Linked DNA regions of Homo sapiens: region 1 is linked to region 2. The links come from fine-mapping of genetic effects on gene expression. A gene starts in region 2. The other region holds a variant in brackets. All regions are shown on one strand. Distances are between the middles of the regions.

What was found. PIP is the estimated chance that this variant, and not a neighbour inherited with it, causes the effect. A credible set is the group of variants that fine-mapping cannot tell apart.
Region 1: its variant is the best candidate, but not a certain one, in a credible set for the expression of PDE6H in whole blood (INTERVAL, PIP 0.73).

What each region holds. Positions count from the first base shown.
Region 1 is chr12:15,003,589-15,019,025 of GRCh38, forward strand. LINC01489 (long intergenic non-protein coding RNA 1489) reads left to right here. Exons shown (of 4, transcript NR_120466.1): 3 at 1,512-1,618; 4 at 2,773-3,095. Among named protein-coding and RNA genes, the nearest start is that of LINC01489, 9.5 kb to the left of the region's middle. The variant T/C (reference allele first, on the strand shown) is at 8,291.
Region 2 is chr12:14,966,566-14,982,002 of GRCh38, forward strand. It overlaps PDE6H (phosphodiesterase 6H), which reads left to right and starts at 6,477. Exons shown (of 4, transcript NM_006205.3): 1 at 6,477-6,521; 2 at 11,407-11,581; 3 at 12,614-12,654; 4 at 14,835-15,300. The coding sequence starts at 11,448. The coding sequence ends at 14,911. RefSeq lists an enhancer at 14,723-14,822.

The DNA of each region.
Region 1 (15,437 bases), 37 kb after region 2:
GGTATTATAATAAGAGCACTGATCACCAGTCTTGAGCTCATAATTAAATGCCCCACAACTAGAATGTGGTCGAGCTAGTCCTTAGTTAAATCTAGGGGTAAAGTCTGGTTGTTTTGACTTTTTTACCCTCCTTCCACCATAAAGCATAACATATTCTCACATGGAAACCTGCAGGGCAATTCCCCTGCTTTACATTAATGAGGGACAAATACGATTTGTGTCTTTTACTGTGTCTAATCTCCCACGGTTCTCACAGCTTCTTTTAAATTTATATGACTTTTCCATTTTCATAAAAAGATAGGATGCCGTTTCTTATCTTTTTGGATCAATGTTATGGTATCAGTATTGATTCTTAAAGAAGTCCTTTAGAGGTTCAGCTCTGAAGCTATTGATCATTCAAAAGTTCCTCCTTTATTTAATTTTCATGTCACTTCAGTCTTTGAAACTTTAGGTTTCACATTTCCTCTGTATGTAGCTTTCCAGTGGAAGACAGGGCTTTCTTTACTGTATTTCTAAAATTATGTAATTTGGGGGTACTTTATTTGGCAAACATGGATAGAATATTTATATGTTTGTGAACAATGTGCAATTCTTATCACAGTGTTACCTAAAATAGCTAACATAAAGAGTCTAATTTATAAATAAGAGAAATTGAAGCTTAGGGAGTTAACTGTTCAATGTAATTAAGTAGACTAACGGGTAGTAGAGCCGTGCCTCCAATCAAAGTCTATTCAAGGCCCAAAGCCTGTCCCCTAAACACTAACATCTGTCTGCCCCTCACATCCACTGTTTTCTCACCATCACTCAAAACTTGTCTCAGAGTGATGGCTTGCAGAGCACATGCCTGGTGCCCTGGTGTCCCCTGTTTGTTCACTCCAGGGCCGGTGGTACCATCTTGATGACCTCACATATCTGATCTAACTCTTTTGTAAGTGCTTATTTCTGTCACTCCAACTAGACAGGGGCTTTTCACTGTTTCATTCCAGCACTTGGCACAGTGAGTAGCACGTTGGTGTTTAACAAATATTTGTTAAGGAAATGGATGCATGATTCTGGGCTTGCCAAACATATGCTCAACTTTGCCTTCTGTGCCTACAACTACCTGGAGGAATTTCTGTCTGCTTCAACTACCAACAAATCTCTCTAAACAAGCAAATGGTGGTTGTCAAGTTGGTAATGGATATTTGTTGTTGATTAAGGTGATAAACTGAGGTAGAGAAATAACTTCTCTGATGATGTATAGGAGCAAAGAGAAATGCTCTTGAGTGGATACTTTTATAATTTTACATTTTACTGGGATTTTATTGGCTGTCTTATTTTGTTGCAAATGGCATAAACCCAACTCACACTAGCTTAGCAAAATGTATAGTTGTAACTTTGCAAGATGGAATATAGAGCCGGCTTCAGATCCTAATGTATCCCAGAGCCAAACAACCTTGTTTTGGTCTCTCTTTGTGTGTCCCTCCTTCTCTCTTTATTTACATGTGTTTCATACTGGGTTCATTTTGCAGAAAGGCTGTCACCATTTGACCAAAAGGGAGGACCAGGACAGAAGGACCATAAGTCAATGGTTTTCTTTAGTGTGCTGCCAGCAGAATCAGAATCACCTGGAAGCTGGGTGAGAATGCAAATTCTTGAGCCCTATCCAAGACCTACTGAATCAGAAACTCTGACACTAGGAACTAGGACTCTGTGTTTTCATAAGCCTTCCAGGTGGTTGTTGTGTACACTACAATTTGAGACCTGCTTGACTAAGGGTAGGAATTGAGTCCTCAAATAAATGGGCTTCATCAAGTGGCTTTCATGTACAGAAGTAGAAGAACATGGGAGACATTAATAGCTCAAAATGAGGGATTATATGTGTTTGGAATTCCTCTGACATGCAAGGCACTCACTTGAGTGCCTAATTAATCTACCTTAATTATACTCTTATCCCTATTTTGAGAGATCTTCAAAAAGAAATGGATTTGGAGGAGGTTTAGTAATATATGATATTTATTAAATTTTACCTTTAAGACTGTCAGAGAGAAACTGGAGGATGCTGGGGTCTTTGTTCCATCAGAGAAAAGCATTTGGCTTCAAAATCTCACATTTCCACTACAACTTTGGGAACTCTGTAACTTCCCAGTTTTATTCTTTAGCACCAATCTTTTCTTCTACAGTGATTAATAGTAAAATTGTTGAATGAAAAATTGTTAGTTAGTGTGGGGAGATAGCATAAAGAGGAAAAGGCTGGGGAGAACTGCAATCCACTTTGAAGCCAGCCTTGAGAAATAGGAATCTCCACAGATGAAAAGGGAAGTCACGGCTCAGAGGAGGGGGCACACTGCCTGTGTTCCTTGTGCCTCCAGGAATAGAGGGGCCCCAGGGACTACAAAGAATCCCCAGGGACCTCAGTTTCTTCAGAAGTAGTAGCAAGTCACTTCAGAATGTTATGCATTATCTGTCTTTTCAGATTTTAATCATCTTTATGTTTGCTTGGTCCTCAGTTAAAAAAAAATATTTCCCACATAGGACTAATGGAATTGTCTTTCTGGGGTCATAGAGACAAGGTTGTCAGAATATCTCTTCAAGACAATAGTGTCAGTGACCACAGCTTGGCAATTCCTGAGCTAGATATAAAGGTAGCAAGAACAGCACTATTCACAATAGCAAAGACACGGAATCAGCCTAAATGCTTATCAGTGATAGACTGGATAAAGAAAATGGTGTGGATATACACCGTAGAATACTGTGCAGCCGTAAAAAGGAATGAAATCATGTCTTTTGCAGGGACATGGATGGACTTGGAAGCCATTATCCTCAGGAAACTCATGCAAGAACAGAAAACCAACCACTGCATGTTCTCACTTATAAGTGGGAGCTGAATGATGAGAACATATGGATGCATCAGGGGGAACAAGACACACTGGGGCCTGTTGGGGCATGGGAGGAGGAAGAGCATCAGGAATAATAGCTAATGGATTCTGCGCTTAAAACCTAGGTGATGGGTTGATCTATGCAGCAAACCACCAGGGCACACATTCACCTATGTAACAAACCTGTACAGCCTGCACAGGTACCCCTGAACTTAAAATTAAAGTTGAAGTAAAAATAAAAAGAAAAAGTCTGTGAACCCTTTAACCCCTGACCAAAGGGAAAAAGAATAAAAGAAGGTAGCAAAAATTAGAGGAGAGCTGACTCATAATTCTAAATGATGTAAGAATTCAAAACTAAACAATCCTAATAATTATTCTAAATAAAATAATTCTAAATAATAAGTGTAGTAACATAATAATAGCAAATATTTATTGATCTCTTATGATGTCCTACGTCCTGTTTTAGTCACTTTAATTGTATTAACTTGCTTAATCTTTATAACTTCCATCCATTTTATAAATAAAAAAACTGGCACAAATTGTCCAAATGAAATAGTTTTTTTTTTAATATAAACCCAAGAAGTTCTGTCCTCAGAGCTCGTACAGTTTATCATTACCTAAGACTACCTGCCTCTTGAGAAAAAGTGAATCTCTTCAGTTAAACTATGCAGATATTTGCTAATATTTGCTACTGTGCTTGTTCGTTTTGGGAAGGCGATTCCACATAATTTTGTCAGAACTCCTTTGTATGAAGATAGAATCCAGCCACCATCCTATCCTCATCATGACACTGTCATTACAACTAAGACATCAGAGTGGACATTCCCCTCTTTTCAAGAAACATTTTTGTCTACTGACTCTATGTGGAAGTCAAAGAGCTAACTATGCTTTATGTTCTTCATTTCATTTCCTGAAACTTTGATGTGCAGGTTAAAGACTGTTTCTATCTGAACTGTTTTATGGGAAAAGCTAGCTTGAACCTAACTACATGAACCTCTGGAGGCTGGGTAACCTGACTTTTTCACAAAGCAACTGATATTCGCATGTTGGGTTTTATTTTTAATTTGTCATGGTTCTTGGAGACTGCTCTGAATGTTCAATTATATTTTTAATTTCACTGCTGGCTTATTAGCTGATTAACTGAGCTGTTCTCATCTGAGCAGTATTAGGGTTTAGTAAGATCTTACATCATTCTACAGGAATCAATTTATAAACTTTGTTTACTTCAAGATTCTGGCTGACACATTAATTTAGCAGCAACAGAATTACAGATAGCGTTACAAAAAAGCTATTAGCTATTCTCTTAGAGATAATATTTATAAATGGAACGTAATTACAGCCTGGAAGCACACAGTTTCCAGAGCTAAAGGCAATAAAGCTACAGCAATAAAGAATTTACTATTAGCTCTCCTGGGACAAAGAGGGCTCCAGTGGAATGGGAAAGAGGTTGGGGTGAGGTATAGAGCTGGGAAGGCGAAAAAAGAAGGAAGAGAATGGGATCACAGGAGAGGCTCAGCTCTTCTAAACAGTAGTTATATTCCAGGCTGTTCTAAGAAGGCAGAGACTAGTGCCCGGGGAGACCAAGTCTCTGCTTCTACTATGGAAGATTTTTAAAAGTTGTTTCCAACCCGATGGAAACTTTCTCATGGGAATGGTTTGCTCACTGATATTTTCCCAAAAGATCTTTTCTCTTATTTTCCCACATCACTGGGTTTTTTAAAAAAATGTAATGACCGTTATCCCAAACAACTAGATAATATACAGCCTTTGTCCTTTAAGAGCAAATTTGGGTCTGTAAATATTTATTGAGCAGCTACTGTATACAAGATACTTTACTACGTATTTTGAGAGATACCAAGATAAATAAGATGTGATCCCTGCCCTTAAGAGGCACAAGATTTAGAAGGTGAGAGAAGATATGTAATACTGCAAGTACCAATACTAGCTACTCTATACCAGGCGTTACTCTCAATGCGTTGGCTATACTAACTCACCTAACCCTCATAGTAACTCTGCAAGACGATGTCATCATTATTTTCATTTAATAGATGAAGAAATTGAGGTGAGCAATATTATATAACTTGGCAAATGTTACATGCTATAAATAAGTTGAAAATCGAGACAGTGGGAGGCGAACTATTTGACTTAAAGTCGTAGAGTAAATCAAAGTCAGCCTCGGCTATAATTCAGTTGAAGTCTCCTGACTCCCAGCACAAGGCTCTGTTTATTAAATTGTGAAGTATTTTTTTGTTTTTTCCTTAATAATGAATGGGACTAGGAGTGATTTCAGCACTTCATGTAAGACTCCTACTTGCTTGTTCTGAGAAAGTAATCAACTTCAAGTCAAACTTTGTTTTTTTTAAAGAGCCTTGAAAGTATTCACTAAGAGTTTTATGAAACTTTAAGCAAAGAATTGTTTGTACAAATACCATTTTAAAATAATTTTCTGACTGGAGCTGATATAAATGTACATTTATTGTTGACTTTAGGAAGGCTTTCATATGAATATCACTTTTTGAAGTTTATTTTTAAAAATTCATTCATTTATCTAAAGTGTATGTTTTGTATTAATATATCAGAATCAAAGTTCATTAAAGTTTTTATTATGAAAATTGGTTTTATTTATATAAAATATCTAACATGTAATTTAAGAGAAATATTAAGCTAATTTTTAAAAACTCCTCCAAGTATGTTAATTTTCCAAATGCTTTTTAGGAAATCAGCGAGGCTTATTACCTGAGCCCTTAGACAAAAGTGGATGGTCTCTTCAATACTTGTGACCTTTTCTCTTCACCTTGTCTGTTTTTCCCTCAGTCCCTGGATTACTACTTTTGTCCTCTAACCGCTTGAAATGCCTTCTCCTATGCCTTTAGCAGCCACTGAAAGTTCACTATTTTCTGTCTTATTTTCTTAAATTATATGTCTGTTAGAGTGTTTGAGGAGATAACTACATAAATGCACCAGGAATAATGGGTGTGTTAGTTTCCTAGAAATGCCATAACGAAGTACCCAAAACTGGGTGGTTTCGACAACAGAAATATATTTATTCTCTCACAGTCCAGGAAGGTGGAAGTCCAAAGTCAAGGTGTCAGCAGGGCTGTGCTCCTCTGATGGCTCTAGGGGAAGAATACTTCCTTGCCTATTTCAGCTTCTAGTGGCTCTTGGCAATTGTTTGCATTTCTTAGCTTGTAACTGCATCACTCCAATCTTTGTCTCTGTCATCACAGGGCTTTCTCCCCTCTAACTCCCGTATGTCTCTGTGTCTGCATCTCCCTCTCCCTTCTCTTATAAAAACACTAGTCATTGGATTTAGGGCCCATTTTAATCCAGCAAAACCTCATCTTAACTAATTACCTCTGCAAAGACCCAGCTGCCAAAAAAGATCACATTCAGAGGTTCCTGGAGAACAGGAATTTGGGGAGATACTCTTCAGCCCAGTACAATGTGTTAATAAGAGAAGGCAGGAGGGAAAGCTTGATCATTTGAACAAATGTTGGTTTATTTTAAGAGAAGTTGTATGGTTCCATGTGGCTAGAATTACTACATCTTCTATTTTGCCATAGTTTTAGCCTTACTTTATAGCTGATTGGAAAAGTCCAGTGACTTCCTTAGGTCTGACTCTATCTCTAAAAAGCCATGCTGACAGATGCCCATTTTACTTGATACAAGATGGAGTATTACCATTGGTCAGGTGAATTCATCAACTTCACTAATCATCTTCCTAAAGAGCAGACAGTATTAAGCATGTCTTGAAAAAAAAACTGCCAAAAAGAAGAACAGAAAGCAAATTGAGCATCGGGAAAAGACTTGGGTCTATAGCGTCAGACAAAACTAAGTTCAATATATACTTAAATAATAATGAGTCTACTAGGTAGACTCATCTAATAGTGCTGCCATGTACTAGTTTACTAATCATAGGATTGTTACTCATGCTCTCTCAGCAGCAGTTTCAGGGTAATTAAATCTACATCAAAGGTTATTTTTAGGATTAAAGAAAGACACAGTCGATATTCAAAAAACATCTACATTAATAACGATAATAATACAGCTGCAAAAAAAGAGTAAGAGGGCTGCAAAAAGAGATGGCATCTAAAATACATTTCTATCTTTACATATTTTTGAAGAAATTTGATCCCATACTCTGAATTCAAGGTGGCGGATGGTGGACTACCTTTGGATGCTGAAACAAGATGTCAGTATTCACTGAGGTGGCAAACCCCCCAGACTCCTCATCCCCTGTAAGCTGTGATTCAGCAGACCTTCATCCTAGCTGTGGCAAAGTGTGGTGTTGAGCCTGCCAGTTCCTGGACCAGGCCTAGCTTTGCCCTCACATGGCACAGATCCCACACTCTGGCCCTCTCTTTTCCCACAACAATTTTGATTTGTAGGCAGGATAATCATAAAAGTTCAAAGGAAATGAGAAATTGCTACTTAGAAGAATAAGATGATGTGTGGAAGGTAGAAAATTTCTAAGTAGCCATCCAACCCAGCTGGGTAGGATCTGACCGTCAGGTTGGTTGGTTGGTTTTTTACCACCAGATGTTAGGTCAGCTTCTTGCTCAGTGCCTCTCAGTCACTTATCTTAGTCCCTGGCTTCCAAACTAGAGGACCTGGGTCATCATTGGAATTTGCCATAGCTTAGGTCTGGGCCTGGCTAAGTCCACAAAAATCTAGTACAGCATCAGAGAAACTTCTGCTAAATAGTTATTCCACACCCAGTTTTGGTTTCTGTAGTTCAGGTCTCTGGTCTTCTGTTATAGGCTCCTTGGTAGATCTCTTGCCTCTCCTGTTCTTGGCCACACATGAAGAACACCACCATCACCACTAGCCTAGCCCACAGGCTCTGGCCCTGACATTGGCTTGTGCTTTAGAGTGCTCAGGCCATGCTGTCTTTTTAACAAATGTTCACTAGGGGCAGTACTCTGAAAGGTTTAAAGCCACTGTGTACATTTCTACTAGGTAGACTCATCTAATCTCTAAATAGTAATTTATTACAAAGGCAACTTGCATACTTTCACATGAAGTTCTTATTTGATTATGTTAATTAGACTTTCAGGACAAAACAGGTCACAATACTTATTTCACACTCACCAGGTCTAGAATATTTTACTGGGATCTGTGGGAAGGTAAAATAGATGTAGCTTCTGCTTTGTGGAGGTCAAAATTGTACTTTATTTTTCTTGAATACCCCTCCCTCAACCTTCCATTTTGAAAACAATCAAGAAAAATGTCCTGTCACATAGTTCTCTCTACTCCCTTTATCTTTCTTTGAAATATCGACTATTCTTCTGCTAACAGCAAAATATTTTCCAAGCATAACAATAAATTTTTCCTTGCCAAAGGAAAACAAGGCCAACCATTGGAAGAGACCCCAAGACTAAGTTACAGCTAATATAGCACCGAACCCCTCTTTTCTCAGCGTGATCTTTAAG[T/C]TTTGGACTTTGAATGAAAGACCAAGGGGAAATTGTTTTATGTTTTATATACTACACTAGTTATATGTTTCATATATAACTACTGGTCCGGATAGCATGTTATCTAAGAAAAAGAACTTCTATCACCTTTAAATACTTGAAAATAATTTCCAGCTGTCTCTCTTCCTCTGATAGTCATAAACACAGACACACACAGACACACACACACACACACACACACACACACACACACAGAGAGAGAGAGAGAGAGAGAGCGAGAGACAGAGAGACAGAGAGACAGAAAGAGAGAGCTTTACCACAATTGATTATGGAAAAAATCACAATTGATTATGGAAAGAAGAAATGCTAGGAGAGCTCAGGCCCATTTATCTCAGTAGATGAACAAGATTGTAACTGCTATTATGTCCTCAGAACTTCATATAGTTCTGGTCCTGCAGTACTAAAAGGAAGGAAAAGAAGTGATGTAAGTACACGTAATGTTCTTGTTAACATAAAAAAGCAGTAAGAGAGAAAAGATAAAAATATAGTGCCTCAGCAGCTGGAAAGTGCCCAAGTGGAGTGTAGAAAAGTGTCCAGTGAAAAACAAGGGACCAGAAAGTAAATGAAGAGGGGTGCTTGGATTCAGCTAAGTGGGACAGAAAGGATTTCTTTAGGTTGAGAGAATTGGAGTTGGAAAGTAAGAAGTCTAAGGAAAATGTTCTTTCAAAAAACATGTTAGAATTAAGTGATTATAACTCACTCAAAATATCACAAATATATGTCATGAACATGGAAGTGGTTGGGAGGACAAAGGGTCAAAGGACTTCTTTGTTCTTTGAGTGGGTCCCACATGATTGAAGAGGAGGAACCAAGAACAGAATTGATGATGTTACAGATGGAAGGAAGGAAGTTTGTAGCTGAGAGCAAATTGTTCTTTGTCCTTGAGATAAAATGAAAATTTGCTCTACTGGTTAAAAATTTACATGACACACATCCCAGAATGAATGTAAAAATGTTTTTGACAGAAGGAATGGAATTAGAAGGTCCACGACTCCAATTGAACTAGATAGAGCAGATCAGGCGTCTCACATTTGCACTCACATCTCTGACATGTGTTACCCACCATGGGATACTACATCAAAAATATTTAGTGTATTTTATTCTTAAGTCTGTTTTCCACACATAATGATCTTATGTTATTGCTTGGGACACATTTGCTCCGAGCTCACGTCTCGAAGCAGGAGTCCCATTGTGGGGCATACTCATACCAAACCTTCAGTGATTCTGAGAAGAACTCTGTGCTCACGTTCTCTTTTCTGCCTTCCTCTCACAGCAAGTCTTAGTTATATTGCCACAAAGCAGTTTACGTGACTTTACTGTGTCAAGAATGATCAGTTAACACACTCAAAGTAGGCTATTGTCTCTGTGACCTGACTAATGGGCCCACCCCACACTTTCGTACATGCCAGTTTGAAACCTACTATCTTCTTCAACCACCATGATGATAGAAAGTCTTGGCATTGGTTACTCCTTTCGGGAAATGCTGGTAATAAACATTGTAGGATGGATTATTGTTCTAAGCCAAGGTTTCTCAACCTTGACATTGGAGGCACTATCGACATTAGGCACGAAGTATTTCTACTTAGTATTTGGGGGGCTGTCCTGTGCATTGCAGGATGGCAGCCAGCATCTCTGGCTTCCACCCAATATGTGCCAGTAGCATAAAATGTCTCCAGACACTGCCAAATGTCCCCCAGGGAGAAAAACTGCCCTGATTGAGAACCACTGCAGTAAACTATTATCTCCCATCAGCTCCTTATAAATTGAACTTGCAGCAGTCTAGCAAGGCATTGAGAGAACGAGAGGTGTCTGAAGCTCAGGAAAATCTGCAGCTCAGAGAGCATCAGAAAATGGCTAGAAAGGGTAGGTCTGAACTGACTGTCACAGGGCAGGGACTTTCAGAGAGTCACAAGGAGATTGGATGAGGAAAAGACAGACAGGGATGAGGGGCATAAAGAAAGGCAACTGAAAAGAAGAAGAAATATTGAGAGCAATATGGCCTTCACTATAGGGCTTTCCTAGAAAACCAGAGGGGGAATCCATAACGGGCAGTCAGAAAACCAAGGTTCTGGTTTCAATTTCACTCTCCTGTTAGTTTTTAGATCACTTATGCTTGGTTTCCTTACCTATAAAACGTGGCTATGTTTCCAGACCTGATTATCTCAGATTGCTATATTAAGGCAATAATGGGAACATTCTCTGTAGATGTGTTTATAAAAGCGTCAAGAATTGCTATTTTTGTGCAGTTGTGCCTCACATATAAGTCAGATGGCTGAGAGGAAGTAACTCAAAATTACTGGGGGCCTGAGGATAGAGAGTCTGCTCGTGGCCAGAGTGGCCTCATGCAGTTTGTTGAAAACCCAGGTCATGCTTCCTCACCTAACCCTGGATGCCTGGGCATCAGGAGCAGTTATGAGGGGTATCCAGGAGTATAAAGTAATATCTGAGTAGATGGGAGAGTGAAATTCAACTGTTAGCATTTTTCATACCAAGGAATTTTTATTAATCTCAATTTACACTTGTGGGGTTTCCAAAAGTGGAGATCTCAGTAAATCTTAGCAATAGGCCATGGTATAGTCTGTACTGCTTGAGTTCTACGGTGGAAAGGAGAATACCTGCCTACCAAAAACTTAGAAAAATATTTTAGGTAAACTGGATACAGAATAATTATGGATTTTTTTTCTCATATTCCATATGGAGAGCTGATAAAATCATCCTCAAAGCATTTTTCTTTTAAATTTAAGACTCAGGTTATCTAGCAAACAAGATGGAAACAAGTGAAAATACCAGTTTGGAAACTAAAGCAAAAAGATCCTTTGGAAATTCCTAAAACTGTTTTGAGGATCAGTTCAAGTTTGAAAGAAAGATTTAGTGCTTATTTTTTTCAACTCTTATAAAAATGACTAAACACATTCGTCCTCTGAAGTAGACTCCAGACTTTTGCACCTGGCCAAAAGGAAGAAACACTTCAGCTCAGATCAACCCAGTTTTTACTGGAATACTTGCGGCAGAACTGAGAAGTGCAGGTATAAGCACAATGACTGGATTATTCCCATCTTCTGCTTATTTAAGAAGTTAGGCATTATTCTTTCTCATTTGCAGACTTTCTGTTTACTAAACTACAAATAAAAGTGTGCAGAGATATGCTTCAGGTTTCCTATTTCTGAAATGCTGTTGGAGATTGCAATTGTACTAAGTTGGAAATTGAGAACTTAATTATTTTAAAATCTAGTCAAGTGAGAGGGAACTATCAACTGCAGAGATACCAGAGTTTTTTGACATTGTTCCTGGCCTTTGGGGATGAAGTCTAACACTCCCCTTTTACAGTTCTCCCTCTCTTCATTCCCTAAAACCAGAGAGCTGAACCTATTTGCAAAACATTGTTACTTCAGGCATCTCATGGGGGATGATTAATAAGTAACCATGGTTAAATGATACAAGGAATAAAATAGCTAGTTGCCAGAAAGACAAAGGTGACCTGGAGAACATCAGAAGATTTTGAGGAAAATAAGGGCTCTAAACAGACGTTATATATTTGCTTTGTTTCTGTCAAATGCTAGGATCTCAATCAATGCATCCCCAGAACAGTTCAGAGAGTAGAGCTGTGGTAGCATCTGATGATGGGTCTTATTGCAAAATGGGCTATCCACTCTCAAAGTTAGTGGGTTCCTTACCACAAAATAATTTCTAATGAGAAGAATGATTTCTGCCATGTTAAGGAAACTTGCAAAATAGATGGGTAAGCCCTCACAACTCCTACTTACCTGGAAATTATATGATTTATATGTGTTGTTGGATTATTAGAACTTTTTGAGAAAAACACTGAAACCATGTTTTAAAAACAGGTAGGTTCATTTTATAGGCTACAACATGGATGAATCTTGAGGACATTATGCTAAATGAAATAAGCTAGTCACAAAAAGACAAACACTGTATAAACCCACTTAAATGAGGTATCAAACTCATAGAAACATAAAGTAGAATGGTGGTTGCCAGGGGCTGGGTGAAGGGTCAAATGAGCTGCTGCTCAATGGGTATAGAGTTTGAGTTTTGCAAGATGAAAACGTTCTGGATATCTATTGTACAATAATAGGAATAAACTTAATGCCAATCAGCGGTGCACGTACAAATGGTTAAGATGGTAAATTTTATGTTTGTGATTTTCAACACAATTAAAAATTTTTAAAGTATTTTAAAGTGTATACTATTTGCTAAATAAAAGAACTTTGTTTAAAAACCCTGGCAAGACGAACTGAGTAGAATCATGGAACACAGAGGGTATAGCTGAGTGAGTGTGATTGTAATTAGTAGACTGTTAGTCTTCCACGCAACCTCACAGATCGGAGAATGAGAATCACTAAGAATCACATTGAGGAGAAAGAACAGCACTTCCTCTGCTCATTTTCTGTGACGTGACCTAGAAAAAGATTTATCATGCAATAATCCAATAGATATTTACGGAACATGTAGGAAGGGGCCAATAATTATGCTAGGTGGGGATTCAGCAATGAATGCATTTCACACCTCAGTCTATTGTAAATTCCCCTGCTGAGGCTTTCAGCAACCTTCTAGTTACTAAATTCACTAGAAGCGTGTTTTACAGAGCCACACTGATTATTTCCTCCACTTAAAACTTTCTTCTTTATTGGCTTACATATCACTCTCCCTGATGTTTATTTTCCTACTTAAGCTGCTTACTCTGCCTTATCCATAAATACTGGTTGGTATTTTTCAGGGTTTCATCTTAGGTCCCCTTTTTCTCAACACATAGTAAATCCTATCAATGAGCTAATGGCCCCAAATCTTATCTTTAGCTCAAACTTCTTTTTCTGGGCCCCAGAATGCTATATCTTATAAATTACTAGATAGCTTTGTTTGAATGTTCCAAATGCAACATGTTTAAGACTCAACTAATTCTCTTTTCCTGATGTTCTTCTATTTTAAACACACTATATTAGAAAAGGACATTGTCATTAAATTAATTGCCCAAGTCAGAAACTGGAAGTTGTTCTGTATTTCTTCCTCTACCCTATCCTCATCTAGAATGAGTCAACATGGCCTGTTCATTTTATTTCCTTAACACTTCTTAAAAATGACCCCGCCTCTCCTTCATCCTTTCTGTCCCTTCTTGAGTTCTCGTTTGATGGCCTCATTTAAGTTATTTCAATAGACTCCTTATTAGTTTCTGTACAACTAGCTTTGCCTTCCCTTAATGCATCTGATACATTGCTATCAGAATAGTCTTAACACGCAAATATGATTCTATTGTTTTCTTTGTGCAAAATTCTTTAGTGGCTCCTGGTTACCTGTAAGATAAACTCTTCACACTTTTTCAGTGTCTTGGATTTTCCCTTGTCCCTCTTTTCAAGCACCATCTCCTACTTATATTACCTTTGCATCCTATTCTTAAGCAAAATTCAACTCCTTAGTGTGAGAACACACAGGCTTGCTTTTGTTTCTGTACTATTTCCTTTGATTGGAGTATTTTCCTGCAAACTGTCCTGTGAGCCCTTTTATAAAAGAGAATGTACTTTTCAGAGCATAGTCTTTTTTTGTAGGTGGTTCATGACTATGGTTTTATTATTTTGTTGATTTTAAAAGTACACATGGTCTGGACAGACATCTCACCAAAGAAGATGTACAGATGGGAAATAAGCATATAAAAAGATGCTCAACATCATAGCTCATTAGGTAATTGCAAATTAAAATAACGATGAGATACCACTACATATCACTTTAGAATGGCTAAAATCCTAAACATAAAATGCTGGATGAGGATGTGAAGTAATAGCCACTCTCATTCATTGTTGGCGGGTCTGAAAAATAGCACAGCCACTTTGGTAGACAGTTTGGCGGTTTCTCCCAAAGCTAACCTTACTCTTACCATATGTAAGAGTAATCCATCAATCACACTCACAGCTATTTACCCAATTGGGTTGTAAACTTATGTCCACACAAAAACCTGCATATGAGTGTTTATAGCAGCTTTATTCATTACTATAGTTGGATGCTTGTCCCTATCCAAATCTCTGTTGAATTGTAATGCTAATGGTGGTGGCCGGTGGGAGGTGTTTGGGTCATGGGGGCGGATTCCCTATGGCTTGGTGGTATCTTTATAATAGTGAGTGAGTTCCCACAGCACCTGGTCATTTAAAAGTGTTTGAGACCTTCCCCTCTACTCTCTCTCTCTCTCTCTCCTGCTACATGATTGAAAGTTCCCTGAGGCTTCACTAGAAGCTAAACAGATGCTGGCACCATGCTTGCTGTAAAGCCTAAGGAACTGTGAGCCAATAAATCCTCTTTTCTTTATAAATTACCCAGTCTCAGGTATTTCTCTATAGCAATGCAAGAATGGCCTAATACACTCATAATTGGCAAAACTTGGAAGCAACTCAGATATCTTTATAAAGGTGTGTAGATAAACTATGGTACATTCACATAGTTGAATATTATTCAGTGATAAAAAGAAACAAGATATCAAGCTATGAAAAGACATGGGGAAACTTAAATGCATATTGTTATGTGGAAAAAGCTAATCAGAAAAAAGCTACATACTGTGTGAATCCACTTATATGATATTCTGAACAAGGCCAAACTTTGGAGACAGTAAAATGATCAGTGGTTGCCAGGGTTTTGGGAGAGAGAGGGAGGAGAAGAGAGATGAATAGGTAGAACACAGGAGAACTTTAGGGCAGTGAAACTATTTTGTATGATGCTTTAATGCTGGATACATGTAATTTTACATGTGTCAAATTCCACAGAATGTACAAAACAAAGAGTGAACCCTAATACAAACTGTAAGCTTTAGTTAATAATAAGTTATGAATACTGGCTCATCAACTGTAACAAGTGTACTATACAAATGCAAGATGTTGATAATAGGGGAAATTAAGGGGTGGGAGGGCTGATAGGTCATGTGAATGCTCTAAACTTTAGGCTCAATTTTTCTGTGACCCTTAAACCTATTAAAAAGTAAGTTTTATTAATGATATATTTTAAGAGTATACTTCAAATCCTGAAAACTGGCAAGAAATTAGTGTACTTAACCATATATGGCTGCTTTATTATGAATCTTCTCTTATGTACTAAACACAGATTCTAAGAAAAT
Region 2 (15,437 bases):
CCTTTGCAGGGACATAGATGGAGCTGGAGGCCCTTATCCTTAGCAAACTAATGCAGAAACAGAAAACCAAATACTGTATATTCTCACTTATAAGTGGGAGCTCAGTGATGAGAACACATGGATGCACAGAGGGAAACAACACGCACTGAGGCCTATTGGAGAATGGAGGGTGGGAAGAGGGAGAAGATCAGGAAAAATTACTCATGGATATTAGGCTTTATACCTGGGTGATGAAATAATGTGTACAACAAACCCCCGTCTACCTATGTAACAAACCTGCACACGTACCCCTGAACTTAAAATAAAAAATTTTAAAAAGAATATTATGTAAACGGAATCATACGTACATTTGTAATTGGCTTTTTTCCTTTAGCATAATTTCCTTGAGGTTCATACCAGTTGTTGTAGGTATCAATAACTTCATTTCCTTTTACGGCTGAGCAGTATTTTCATGGTATAAAAGTACCACAGTTTGTGTAACTATTCACTCATTATAGGAAATTTGGATAGTTTCCAGTTTGGGGCTAGTATGAATAAAGCTGCTATAAACACTTGTGGACACAAGTTTTCACTTCACTGGATGAACACCCAAAAGTGCAATTGCTAGGTTGCATGGTAAATCCATGTTTATTTTTAGGAAAACTGGCCAAATGGTTTTCCACAGTGGCTGTTCCATTTTACACTCCCACTCACAATGCACAAGTGATCCAGCTTCTCCTATATCTGTGCAATCATTTAGTGTTACACTATGTTTTTTTTTAATCATTATCATAGGTGTGTGGTGATTTCTCATTGTGGTTTTAATTTGCATTTCCCTAATGGATGATTATGGTGAATATATTTTTGTGTGCTTGTAATCTACATATCCTCGTCAGTGAAATGTTTACACGTATTTCTTGTTCATTTTCTAATTGAATTGGTTGCCTTTTTAATCTCAAGTTTTGAGAGTTCTTTACATTTTTGAGGTACAAATCCCTTGTTGGGTATAGGATTTTCAAATACCATCTTCCAATTTGTAATTTGTCTTTCAATTCCCCCATCAGAGTTTCTCACAGAGCAAATATTTTTAATTTTAATGAGGTCAAATTTATCCATTTTTACTGTTATGGATTGTGTTTTCACTGGCAAGTGTAAGAACTTTTCACTTAGTCCAAGGGCCTGGAGATTTTCTCTCATATTTTTAAATTAAAGTTTCATAGTTTTACATGTTATATTTTAGTCTGTGATTCATTTGAGTTAATTTCCGTACTAGGTGTGAGGTTTTTGGGGTGCATAATATGTGAGGTTTAAGATTCTTTCTCTCCTCTTCCTTCTCCTCCTTCTCTTTCTCCTTCTCCTCTTGGTTTATGGATACCCATAGACAAAGTGTCCATGCTTTCCAGCACCACTTGTTGAACAGACCATCCCTCTCCCATTGAATTGCTTTTGTCTCTTTGGTCAAAAATTAATTGGGCATATTTGTGTAGGTCTATATCTGAGTTTTCTACTCTGTTTCACTGATGTGTAGGTTTTCATAGCTTCTTTATGAGAATCCTATTCTAGTAGAATTCCTAGTTCTATTCCTAGTTTGCTGAGAGTTTTTATCATTAATGGGTTTTGGATTTTGTTAATCATATTTTCATCAATTGATGTGATCATATGATTTTCTTTTTTAGCTTGTTAATATAATGGATTATGTTGATTAATTTTTGAATATTTAATAAGCCTTGCAAGCTGGAATAAATCCCACTTGACTGTAGTGTATTATTCTTTTTATACATTGCTGTATTTAATTTGATAATATTTTGTTAAGAATTTTTGCATCTAAATTTATGAGAGATACTGGTCTGTAATTTCCTTTTTAAATTTCTTTGTGTGGTTTTGGTGTCAGGATAAAATAGGCCTCACGAAATGAGTTGGGAAGTGTTTCCTCTTATCTGTTTTCTGGAAAAGAATATTGTGTTTTTAATTCATAAGTTTTTTTCCAAGATTAATGTTGTTCTGGAGAATCAAACGTAGGGTATTTAGGGAAAGAGGGGCCAGGCTTGTACATTCCTTTTTCACGTTTAGTGTGTTCCCCTCTGGAGTCCACTATGCATTAGTCAGAGTGGAAAGTTCAGTCTAGGAGATTCCAAATGTGGAGGAAATGTGACTTTAATGTGTCTTCCCACTCACTGGTATTTTAAGAAGCACTAAAGAAAGATTAGAGATTAGCGCTTGCATAAGCAGCTAAAGGACAGCTAAATTTTTAATTACTTTCTAATTACTTAGTACCTGCACTCTACTTTCCAATATATAATTAATAACACTTTTCCATCTGTCAGAAGGGATCAAGAACCAGAAGTTATAGAGCTATGGAATACAGATTTAAGAAAATAATTTTATTATATTTAGTCATAAAATTTGCATACAGTAGAGCTTACTCCTTGTGATGGACATATGGGTTTTGACAAATGCATCGAGTTGTATATCTACCACTATGATCAGGATTCCAAATAATTCCATCACCGCTCCTAAAATTTCTTGGATTTTCTCTTTGGAGTCAACTTCTCCACTCAATCACGGTCCCAAGCACCCAGTGATCTATTCTCCAATCCTACAGTTTTGCCTTGCCAGAATGTCAAAAATGAAGTCAAACAGTACACTGCCTTTTGACTGTGGATTTTTTCATTTAGCAAAATGTTTCTGTGATTTATTTATGTTATTGAATGTATCAATAGCGAGGTTCCCATTAGCTTTATTTCTTGTTTCTGTGAAAGCTTAGAGTGTTCAATACGCCAAAGTTATTTTGGAGGAATTCCTTTGAGATTGGTCATTTTGCTTATAGCCATATAGCCCGATTACCTGGTTGATAAGATGAGAGACAAACTGACCAGAAATCAGCCATCACTAGACTAGGCAATGAACTATGAAGGGATCTGGTAAAACTACTCCATCCAACAGAGGTGATGTGTATTGATTGTTGCTTGCCCAGCCTACACCAATCCCCTGAGAGTCAGTAGGAGTCAGAGTAGCAGAGACAGGAAGAGCAGCCACTTCAAACAGGGAACAGTGGGTGAATCCTTGATCCAAGATGATGACCAGACCCTTAGAACCTCATAGTGCCTTGAACGATGTTTCGTTCTCCACCAAGCCTTGCTGAAGGTGGTTGAGTTTCTTATCTTCCATTTTTCTTTTCAGATAGACTAAAATTCTTTCTTTTATCATTTATTTTTTGTTTCAAAAAGTTTCCTTAGCCATCTTTTTAGAGTAGGTCTTCTGATTATAGATTCTCTTAGTCTTCCTTTGTTTGAGGATGTCATTATTTCCCCTTATTCCGAAGAAGGATAAATTCACATGACATAGAAGTGAGGGTTGACAGTTCTTTTTCTCAGGACATGAAAAATGTGCCATATCCTTCTAGTCCCCCTGGTTTCTAATGGGAAATCTGCTGTCAGTTGAGTTATTTTTCTTACAGATAAGGTGTTGCTTCTCTTTCACTGCTTTCTACTTTTTTTCTTTGTCTTTAGTTTTCTGAAGTTTAGCCATGGTGTATTTTGGTGTAGATTTCTTTGAGTTTATCCCACTGGGTTTTCCCACCTTCTTGATGTTACACAATTACGTCCTGCACTACATTTGGAACATTTTTAGCCATTATTTCTTCAAGTACTTTTTAAGCTTCATCTCTTTTCTCCTTTCCTTCTGAGATGCTGATGACATAAATATTAGGTCCTTTAGTCTCACAGATCTGTAAGGTTCTATTCATTTTTTTTGTGGGGGGGTGGGTTTATTTTCTGTCTTTTGTTCAGATTGGGTAATTTCTATTTTTCTGTCTTCAAGTTCACTGATTCTTTCTTCTTTATTCTCCATTCTGTTTTTGAGCCTATCCATTAAGTTTTTTATGTTGGTTATTCTATTTTTCAGTTCTAAAATCTTTATTTCATGCTTTTTTACATGCTGTGTTATTTCTGAATGGAGATGAAATTTCCCACTTGGGCTTCTTTGATACCGCTCTGGTAGGGAGAAGAAGGTGGCCTCGTTATGACTGGTTGGAGGTGAAAGTCCAAGATCCCAATGTGGCTTTCTCTGATGCTACTCAGCTAGGGTGGGAGAAAGAAGGTCACCCCGTTGTAGCTGAATCAAGATGAAAGTCTTGGCTCTCCACTCAGACTTTGCTGAGTCATGTCATGTTTTTTTTCCATGGTATTTGACTGGAGTAGGGCGGTTTTTGTTTAAATGTTTTTGTTCTTGCTAGTTTGCTACTCTCTTGGTCACTTGTCTAGAAAAAACAGGCTTTTGGGGAGGTTTTTTGTTTTTTCACTCCTCTTGGTGTTTTTGGGTTACTGTCTTTTCCTGCATCAACATCCGGATATACAAAAAGAAAATTCAGGAAACTTCCTGCCATATTGTTCCTCGCATCTAAAGCCTGTCTTTGGTTTTTCTTCTCTCAAATATTTTGAAATATTCCATATTTCTGTCATATATAGTATCCAGGATTTTTAGCTGTACTTAGCAAGAGGCATGAGAGGAAATGTGTCTACTTTACTTGGTCCAAAACAAGAAGGAACATAGATTTTTAAGACTGTAGAGTAATTTAAGAATTTTCTAATTCTAAACCCCTGAGAACCATATTAGAGTGGCTTTAGGAGAATTTTTCAAACTATACACCTAGACTTTCTCCACACTCCTAATCTCTCCCTCTTCTCTCTCCTGGATTTCCTTTGGAGGAAGAAGACTTATGGCACAACCACCCCCATATTCAAAAATTGAGAATCTGAGAATTGCAAGATTATCTTTCTCAAGTGTACTGGGATGGAAAAAAATTGAGAACCCCAACACTCTAAATCATTCATTTTACATATGAGGAAACTGAGACTCAGAGAGGTGACATATAGCAGATAAGTGGTAAACCCAAGCTTGCATATGGGTCTAGAACAGTACTTTTCAAACATTAATATGCAAACACATCACCTTGGACCTTGTTAAAAAGCAGATTCTGATTCGGTAAGTATGGAGCAGGGCTGAAATCCTGCATTTTTAACAAGTGCACAGATGGTGTTGCTGCTGCTGCACTTTGAGTAACAACATTCTAGAACATTCACTCAGCTTTTGGCACTTTCCACTGTCCTTAAAATTTGTATTCTTTCATCAAGAAAATGGAGAATATGTAAAAGTTTGACAGATAAGCATCTGAACATTAACGTGCCTGGTATGTAATAGTAAAGGAAGATGTGAATGGTAATGGAGATACAGAGGAGGGAGCAGAGGGACTCATCCAGAGACCAAACACTTTCCTGGCTTTGCAAGGTAATCATTGCTTTCAAAACTCAGAGGAATTTTGGTAAAGACCAGTGGAGAGCATATGAATGACTCTCAAGCTGTCTAGTTGCTCATGTAATCTGCTTAGGGCTGCAGGTTAAGAACCTCTCCCTGTCTAGAAAGGATAAATTGACCTTCTTTCTCTGTAATGTTATGGAGTGTAATTTTCTAATAGGTAACAACTGGGGAAAGAACATTGAAATTCACTGGCAAGGCATGGAAGTGACCAGCAAACAGACATCTTGGTCTCTGTCTGCTTTGATGTAGTGCAGCACAAAGACAATTGAATATGCAAGGTACTTCCAGATTTGGGCCCTGTTCCTGGCTCCACTATTAATTTTATTTGCAGTCTTGAATAGGTCACTTAATCTTTCTATGATAAATTTATCAAAAGAGCTTACTGATAACTACCATATGGGTTGAGATCTATTTAAAATACAAAAAGTATTAATCTATTAATAATTAATACTAGTGGATCAATAAAATAGGAAGACTGAGTCAAGGAGTCTCAGTAAATTGGATTGTACCCTAGACCCTACACCCTGAAACATTTAGGTACGGAAGATCCAGCAATCGATTCTCAAATAAGTGTCCTCAGTTAACAATTCCTAGCTGTCATTTGGGCCCTTTCTGTGTCAGATATCAGTTTTGACTCTGAGGTTCCATCTCTCTGAGGAAATTCGCACAATACCAGTTAGGGAGACATACTGTGTGTTTCCCAATGTCACTGCCCGCATGTTCAATGTCCCTGTATAGCAGGAGGCACTGTGGCTCCCTCTCTTCTCTCCAGTTATCTAGAGCCCCATAAGAATTATGTCACTGTGTATATGTGTGTGTGTGATTGCGCACATAGGTGTGTGTTTGTCAGAGAAAGGGAAGAAATGGGGGTATTGAAATCTAAAGGTAAGAATAAAAAAAAGACAGAAGATATTGAATCACAAACTGAAATTTACCCTTGGATATCAACACTTTTTGTGTTTTTGTGAATACAATACCTATTTATTGACTGGAATGAACCCAAGTCAGTTTTGAAAGGGCCTCTAATTATTGGAAAACTCCTAAGCCTGTCCCAGCATCAACCCATGTTCTCCTAACTTCTTTGCACCTGGGTTGCTGTTCTGAGCTTATGACGGTGAGATTAGGCAGCATGAGGGTATTACAGAGAGATAAGTCAGGATGCAAAGATCCTTTTGTCTTTTGCAAAGAAGGCAGCTGGGCAGCTGATAGGAACAACATTCAGCTCCGTGAGTACTTCTGAACTTCTGGTGAATTTGAGCAGGATAATTGAAGGGCTTTGGGGGGTTGATCAGGTTCCAAAAGAAAAATTGCAGAAGAAAACATGTTGGACCTGTGGGCCTGGGCTGTGGCTGGGGATGAAAATGGGAAAGAACATGAAGGAGATACATGCAGACCTTCTTGTTATGCCATGGGACAAGCAAATAAGTGAAACTTGATTATTACAAGGTCACTGCAAAACTTGATTACTGAATTCATTTAGAAGGAGCCCAATAGTGACCTCCCTGTTTGCAGCTTCATAGTAAACAGTTTTCTGAAGAAGGAGGAATCTGTGGCACTAAATAACCACAGAGAAAACAGTTCTTTACTCCCAGGATGTGCCTGCAAACTTGGCCCAGGATGGTGTGAGTGTGAGGAAAAGGAGAAGGGGAGCTGAGAGCATGAGAATGACCACAGGGCAGGGCAGGTGGCTGAGCCTTCTCCCTTTGAGGTCAAGTGTTTGTTCCATTCTGAAGCAGGGTGCTGGCTGGAATTTTGGTAATTTTTTTTTTATGGCTTTGGTTTGGGTCTTGCTTTGCTTTTCAAATTATTGATTTTCTCTGCCTCAGCAGGACCCTGGGTGATATTTATGGGCTCAACCCCAGCAGTACTTCCCTTCCCAGCTCCTTCCTGCCTCTTTCTTTGTCCACCAACAATGGACTGGTCTACCTGTCTATAGCTTTGCTGAGAAAAAGAGAACTGGAAGTGTAAGGTGATAACAGCAGCATCAGAGAGCTGTCTCAGGAACCTCCTAAAACTGCTTTTCAGAGGATCATCCTCTGTCACTATATAGAGCTGGGCTTTGCTGTATAAAGAAACAGAAGATGATTTTTTGCTTTATACAAATCTTTAACTTTGTTAAGTTGACCCTAATCCCAGTCCCCTAAAAAAGTATGCCTTGAAATATTACTTTGCTGCATCCACTTATTTCTGCAGAAAAACAGTTTGTAATCTTCAAAAGGGGAAGGGCTAACATTGCTTTAAATACAGGAAAATGTTCTGGCTCACAAAAGAATAAATTGCCTAATGCTTTTGGAGGAAAAAATATGAAACTTCTTTCAGCTAAAATCAAGTCTGATAATACATTTAAGGTTACTCAGCTCCAGATGCCCTTAGAATTTCTAGAAAGGTGTGGTCAGCATGAGGTTAGCCTTTGGTGATGTTTATGGACAACAGGACTGGCTTCCAATGCAGGAAAAGGTCAGAGGTGTTCTACCCTTCCTAAAGGTTTTGCAGAGAGAATTGGAGGGTAAATCTATGACAGAAACTGCATAGGGATTAGTCGACTGTTCCGGTTACCTAGTGCAAATCCTGAGCACCATTAGGATCAAGGGATTAACCTGGCAACTGTTATGTAACTCTTTCTGAGGAGGCTTCTTTCATATAATGCATCATACTCAGACATGAACACTTTCTAAGCCTAGAGGTGTAACTTCAAAATTATGTAAAAATGCAAAAGAAACTTGCAAGAAAAAAGGGGATGTATCATTGGGGAATATGGATGTCACGTGTGATTTTTAAATTCTTCGGGGTTGCTGTTGGGGTGTCAAAGGAATTCAAGGAAAGCTTCTTAAGACAGAATTTTAAGACCAGAAATAAGTTAACAGTCGGGGTGTTTGAAGGAAGCAGAGAATTACCCAGCGAGGGCAGATGATAATTGCCCCTCTGGTGTATGGCAAGGGCCCTTCAGCAGTTGGCCCAGAGGAAGGAGGTGCAGAGTCCAGGTGAACAAGTGTCATAACCACAGATTTGTTTGCATGGCTTTCTTTTCTCTCAGAAGGTCTAGCATATATTTGCCCTTTTTGAACACTTTGTACCACTCTACTTATATTGTCTTCCTAAAATTTCCCCATAACTCTAAAAGGAAGGTCTTGTTTGATTCATTTTATAGATGGAATAAGACCCACAGAGGATTATGAAATTTATCCTAAGTCACGTAGCCAGTTCTGTGGAGTAGGAACTTAAAACTATATCAGTTTGATTCTAAAGAGTGTACTCTCTACCGTGTTACCATCAAAGGACAATTTGACAAATGAGGGTCACTTTAGGCCCTTACATTATAGAACTCTGGATCCAACTCAATTGGATCTTATTAGGGCTGCCAGATAAAAATGAAGGATGCCAGTTCAATTTGAATTCCAGAAAAAAAATGACTTTTTAAAGTATAAATATGTACCATGAAACAGCTGAGATATACTTTACTAAAAAAAATTATTTCTTTGTAATTCAAATTGAACTGGGTGTCTTGTAATTTTTTTTTTTTTGGCTTAATCTGGCAATTCTAACCCTAATAGATTCTTTAGATGAGAGAAAAGAAACTTTTTGATTTCTTCTACCTTGAAAATCCTGGGCAGTTCAAAAACCTTGATCTGAGAGCAATTCTCTAGCTGCCCTCTGTGACTCTGGCAGGGCTGGGATGTGTCAGTTACTGGTGGTCCACTCTGAGCACAGCGCAGATCTTGGCTGCTCACCAGCTATTCCCAGGGTCCCAACCACACTTGGGACAGACACAAGGTTTGCCTGTCTACCGGGGGTAGAGAGGGCCCACAGAACGGGAACTGAATTTAGTGAGCAGAGGAACTGGCAGTGCATTTCCTAAAGCCTGAAAGCTAATGACTTCTCTGTGCTCTGATGGAGAAGTCAAAGGGTCAGGATCTCATGACCAAGGTTTACAGTATTTGTTCAATTTCTTTTGTTTTTTTTTTTTGTTTTTTTTTTTTGGAGACGGGGTCTTGCCCTGTCGCCCAGGCTGGAGTGCAGTGGCACAATCTCAGCTCACTGCAAACTCCACCTCCTGGGTTCACACCATTCTCCTGCCTCAGCCTCCCAAGTAGCTGGGACTACAGGTGCCCGCCACCACACCTGGCTAATCTTTTGTATTTTTAGTAGAGATGGGGTTTCACCGTGTTAGCCAGGATGGTCTTGATCTCCTGACCTCGTGATCCGCCCGCCTCGGCCTCCCAAAGTGCTGGGATTACAGGCGTGAGCCACCGTGCCTGGCCTGTTCAATTTCTAAATTAATTTATTAACTCATTTGACAAATATAATATATATGGCATGATTACTGTACACCATGCACTGTTGTAGGTTCTGAGACTGGAAGGACAGCCTCATGAAGCTAGTCCAGTAGGGGATAAAGGAAGGAATCACAGCATGAGCAGGTGGTCCAGGGTCCTGGCCAATCTCACCATCCCTGGTACTGGCAAGGGTAATAATTTAGTAATAATCAGAATTTAAATAAGAGAAAAATCTTGGAGGCGAGGATAATAATTGCAACCCAATTGTCAAGGAAATAAGAAAACAGTATGGACTGGAAGTTATAGAATATGAGGTTTCAGGAATATGCAGTGTGGCCAGTAAAGAGAGTCATTGTTAGCACGAGCCAAAGACTGTCAGGGAGGTTTGCAGTTAACAGTATTAGCATAGGCTGGTGTGATGGGTCATGCCTGTAAACCTAGCACTTCGGGAGGCTGAGGCGGGAGGGTCACTTGAGCCCAGGAGTTTGAGGCTGTAGTGAGCTATGATTGCAATTGCACCACTGCACTACAGCCTGGCTGATGGAGCAAGAACTTGTCTCTCTTAAAAAAAAAGAAAAAAGAATATTAGCATAAATCTGCAATGGGTGAAATAAGGAATCTTATGGAGACAAAGCCCCCACACACTAGTTTTTATAGAGGAGACTGTCTCAGGGTAAGAGGCAAAAGCAATTTGGAGTTCTCTGGGGCTTTTCAGGATCTTCCTTCCAAGAGCAAGTTTTGTTAACTCTTACGAAAGAAAGGAAGAAAGAAAATAACGTCATCCAAAATGACACATTAATTGCTTAAATTTATCTTTTTCAATAATTTTCTTTGATTTGTATTTGAAGAATGGCAATGTGCATTTCTGTAGCCAAATTAAAGTCTGAGAACACCATATTGGATAGGTCCGTGGTGTGGATAGAAGAAGGCATTGAAGATTTGTGAAAAGTGGGGGCTGAAGAACCTTATGTCTCGACGTAGAGTTGAAGCACAAACGTATTACTTAATTATCCTTCATTAACTTCTGTATGTGCGTGTGTATTAAGATGTGTTGAATATATTCATGGGTGTTGGTATTCCTGCTTCAGAGGTCCTCCTGTCCAGACAACTACACTGTCATCTCCCAGAACTAAGAGAGAAGTTTCTGGTTCATGTGAGGATTAAACAAAATAATCCTATCTTAAACTATAAGGACATGAAGGACTATAAAAAAACAGAGGCCATAAAAAATGCTCAATAAACATTTAGAGTCAGGTTATTTTACAGCTGGATGGAAGAATATGTAAAGCTTAAAGAAATTGCAGATGCTGTAAAAGACTATAGATATCACTGAGTCCATTTTCCTCTCTTCGTAACTGACAGAACTGGTAGTCACAGAGAAGTACAGCATCATAATAAATTCACGTAGAATGCTTGTGGCAAATCTATTTTATTTATTTATTTTTAAATTTTAATTTGTTATACCTAATGTGAAGCTTTAATTTAATTTATTTATTTAAAAATTGTTTTCAGTGGCAGATCCATGGGAACAGCATAGCTACCTAGATTTCTGAGTTTTAAAATCTATCAATTGTCCGTTTACACAACTGATAGATTGTGTAAGTAATGTAGCAGAAGGTAAGTTTCCATTCCATTCCATTAAGTGCCTGCATTGATTTATACTCTGTTTTCTTAAAGATCCCTTTTAAAGATGATAACTTCTCCCCTTTTGTGTCAACACAAAATACTGAGCTTTCTTGTTGAAGTACTTTTCTTCTCCAGCCTGAAATAAAGATCTAATAACCAATGGTCCCCATGACTTGAAAGATCTTCTTTTTTTTATCTTTCACTGTCTAAGGAGGCTGAAAGGGAAACATCAGCCGCCCGGGGGGAGTTAAAATGAGTGACAACACTACTCTGCCTGCTCCAGCTTCAAACCAGGGTCCTACCACCCCACGCAAAGGCCCTCCCAAGTTCAAGCAGAGGCAGACTCGCCAATTCAAGAGTAAACCTCCAAAGAAAGGTGTGAAAGGGTAAGACCAAAATGAAAAGAAAAACTTTCTATTACTTTCTTTTTCCCACAAGACTGCTTTTGTTTTGGGAAATTGGTGCTCACAATATTAAACAGACTTACAAAAATTTCCACTCCATCCTCTCTTTTCCTCTGTAACTCCATCTTTGATGAATTGTGTCTTTATCCCTGGAATTCTTTCCTTCTCAACTTCCAGGTCTGTGGCCGAATTTAACATGGCAAATAGAGGCTTTTTACAATAAACTTTGACTTTGCCTTGCAGGCTTTTGATGACCACTCCTCTTTACTGAGACAACCTCTACGTTAATCTGTAACACTGAACCACTGACCATTTCCAGAAAATATAGCTTATATTTATGTCTTCCAATTTTGTATCCTCAGTTCTTTATTTTCCTCTTCCTCTCCTTGGCAAAATCCTATTGATTTTTCAACACACAGATCATATGCTAATTTCTTTTTGAAGCTACTCCTGACTCTCTTTAACAAACTATCATTACTTTCATGTTTGCATTTTGTACATTCAGCTATCATAACTTACATTATATCTTATATTTATTTATTTGTATCTATTCTCCGAGGCTAAGACCACTCAGAAAATTTGTCTGTTTTCTTCTTAACTCTCTGTGCTTAATAAAATGCCTGGTATATAATAGATGCTTAGTTAATGATTTTGAATAAGTAAACAAATGGATGAATTCATCATTTTTAATGCCTTTTGTATTGCTTTCTCATTTCAATTTTTATTATAAAAAGTGAAACTTGACTAAGTTGTCCCACTGATGGTTCTTTCTGACTCTTAATTGTTTTAGGTTAAGTTCCTACAGGAGAGAAATATCTCTCCAGTGGGATACACCAAAACCTGCCTGAGTGACATTTTCTTTGCTCCAGTTCAGGGCAAACTAAAGGAGTTTCTCACATACAAACACTTAAACCTCTCCTTCTTCCCCCTTGAATCAAGAAACTCTCCATGTGAGTGACTCCAAAATTCTTTTGCTCTAATCTCAGCTAATTTCTCCTTTATTCTTTTCCATAGATTTGGAGATGACATTCCAGGAATGGAGGGGCTAGGAACAGGTAAGCCATCCACTGATTTAAGTGAGAACTTCGCACTTGGAGTTCTGCCTTTTTATATACTTCAGGCCTCAAGGGGCAGTTGAAAGTTATGAGAAATACCCAAGGCAGAAGATCTGTGAAGACATAGAAATGTGGGGATTTAATTTACCCTCGAAATAAGTACATGTGTGCCCAGATACAAAAGCCCTAAAAGAAATCAGGGTAGGCCCAAAATTTCATAAACCTTCTTGTTTTGTCAAACAACCTTTGAGGGCATACAATGATAAATTATAGACTTTTATGGTAGAAAGATTTTCATAATTCATCTCCCCAAACTTCATTTTTCAAGGGAGAAATCTGAGACATACAGGAATTGGCAGTCTTTTGTCTGAGGCTACCAAGTGAACTATTGGAAATAAGGGTGAGGTCTGGAGATCTCTCCACTCTACCTGGCAAACCACTTCCTTACCAATTTCCTCTTTTTACACATCCTCTAGCACCCAGAGGAGGATCTTACATACTGAATGCCTGCAATATAATTTTAAAAATTGGTTACCAGATTTTTATGTATCATACAATGAATGCAATCACTGCATATTTTTTAAATTAATAGACTTTATTTCTTAGAGGAGTTTAAGACTTACAGAAAAGTTCAGCAGAAAGTAGAGTTCCTATATGTCCTCTCTACCATCTCTCTCCCCTTTTACACAGTTTCCTCTATTATTAACATCTTGTATTAGTGTGATTATATTTGATGAGCCAATGTCGATGCAGTATGTTAATTAAACTCCATAGCTTGAATTAGAGTTTTTATCCCTTGTGTTGTAAAGTTCTAAGGGTTTTGATAAATACCATGTACCCACCATTATAGTACATATTGCAGTACATATAGTATCATACAGAATAGTTTCGCTGCCCTATGCTCCACCCGGTCATCCTTCTCTCTCTCTCTAAACCCCAGACATCCACTAATGTTCTTACTGTCTCTATAGTTTTGCCTTTTCCAGAATGTCATATAGTTAGACTCATACAGTATACAGCTTTTCTGGACTAGCTTCTTTCATTTAACCATATTCATTTAAGGTTTCTCCATGTTTTTATGTGGCTTGATAGCTCATTTTTTAAAATCACGGAATGATACTCCATTGTAGGGATATACACAGTTTTTTATCCTATTGAAAGATACCTTGGTTTCTTCCAAGTTTTGCCAATAATGAATAAAATGCCCCTAAATATTTATGTGCAGGCTTTTGTGTGGACATATTTTCAACTCATCCAACACACCTTTGATAAACAGTAGCACTTGTAGTAATCAGTGTCCTTCCCAGGCAATCCTCAGTGTCTCTTTCTGCAGGCAAATACCAATCCTGGGATCTTGAATGAATTTTCCAGCCATGTTATAAAGCAAATTTTCTATTCTTTTAGATCAACTGCTTCCGTATTTTGGCAAGGTGCATACAAGACCAGCAAATTTGCTTTGGGATCTGGAAGATATGCTTGACTCTGACAGTGTATTTGGAATAATGTAAAGAGGTTTATAGGGAGTGAAGGTCTGAGGTCTTTGACCTGGCTCTAGTCTCAGCTCTACAACTATGTGGTTTTTGCTAATTATTTCATCTTTCTGTGTGTCAGCAAGCTTCTTTGTAACTCAGGGATAATAACATCTTATTGTCTAAAACAAGAAGCTGGATTAAAAGATGCTTTGTGATCGTTTCTCAATATGTGATTGGATATAGGCAATTCAAAATGTAAAGGAATAGAAGAACAATTAGAGAAGAAACCGATCTAGATTGGTAGGGAAGACTATGGATACCTAGACCAGGGAGATTCAAAGTGCTCCTCTTTTTCATTTTAACCCTTGGCCTGACTAGAATTCCACTTCTGCCTCCTCCTTAGTGGTTGTGGTTTGGGGAGACTCTGTGTAATCAGTGGGCTGTACCCCACAGGGAACCCCCCAGTCAACAGCTGTGGATCACCTCCCCAAAGAGGAAGCAGAATGAAACCAACAGAGATGCCTGGTGCAACAATTAAGCAATTGGTCTGATCCTTCCTGGGCCACAGGGCCACGCTAGGGAACTTCCCAGTCAGGGGACAATGAGCAGGAGAGAGGAGTGAAGTGTCTCTGCCTGAAGGGTGTCTTTCTGTGAAGAAGCTCTCTTGGGGTGAGGTTGGCTTACGTGCTCTTCTTCCATCTCTTGCAGATATCACAGTGATTTGTCCATGGGAGGCATTCAGCCACCTGGAATTGCATGAGCTCGCTCAGTTTGGGATTATCTGAAGTGCCAGAGGTTCTGCCACTCTCAATGACATCTGCTGTAATTTTGGTTGCTTTTGCCCTGTTGATCTGCCGGAGTCTTGAAATTCAGCTGATTGGAAGTGGTTTCTTTGACTTTCAAGGTCATTCCCTATCAGTTACTACTAAGAGTTCTCTTACTGTCAGAATCTCTCTTGCAGTACAGCTCAAAATAGTGGATGCATTTCAAACTTGACCACCTTTTCCTACCAGCTAGTTAGAAGTCATCAATATTTCTCTACATTTTGTTTATCTGTAAGTCCTTTAAATCTATTTTTGCTAGGCATTCATTATGATTAATAGTAGACTTTTAAGACAACATTTATGTCACTCCCCACCTCCTCATATTTAATAAAGGAGATATTTACCTTGAATGTTGGTGAAGTTGTATTAAATGCTACGTAGAAATATCTGATGCTGTGTTCTGAGAACCAATTAAACAAAGAAGGCACAGTCATACAGGAAATAAGTGCAGTGCTTACAAAACAGCATAGCATTAAGATTTGAATTC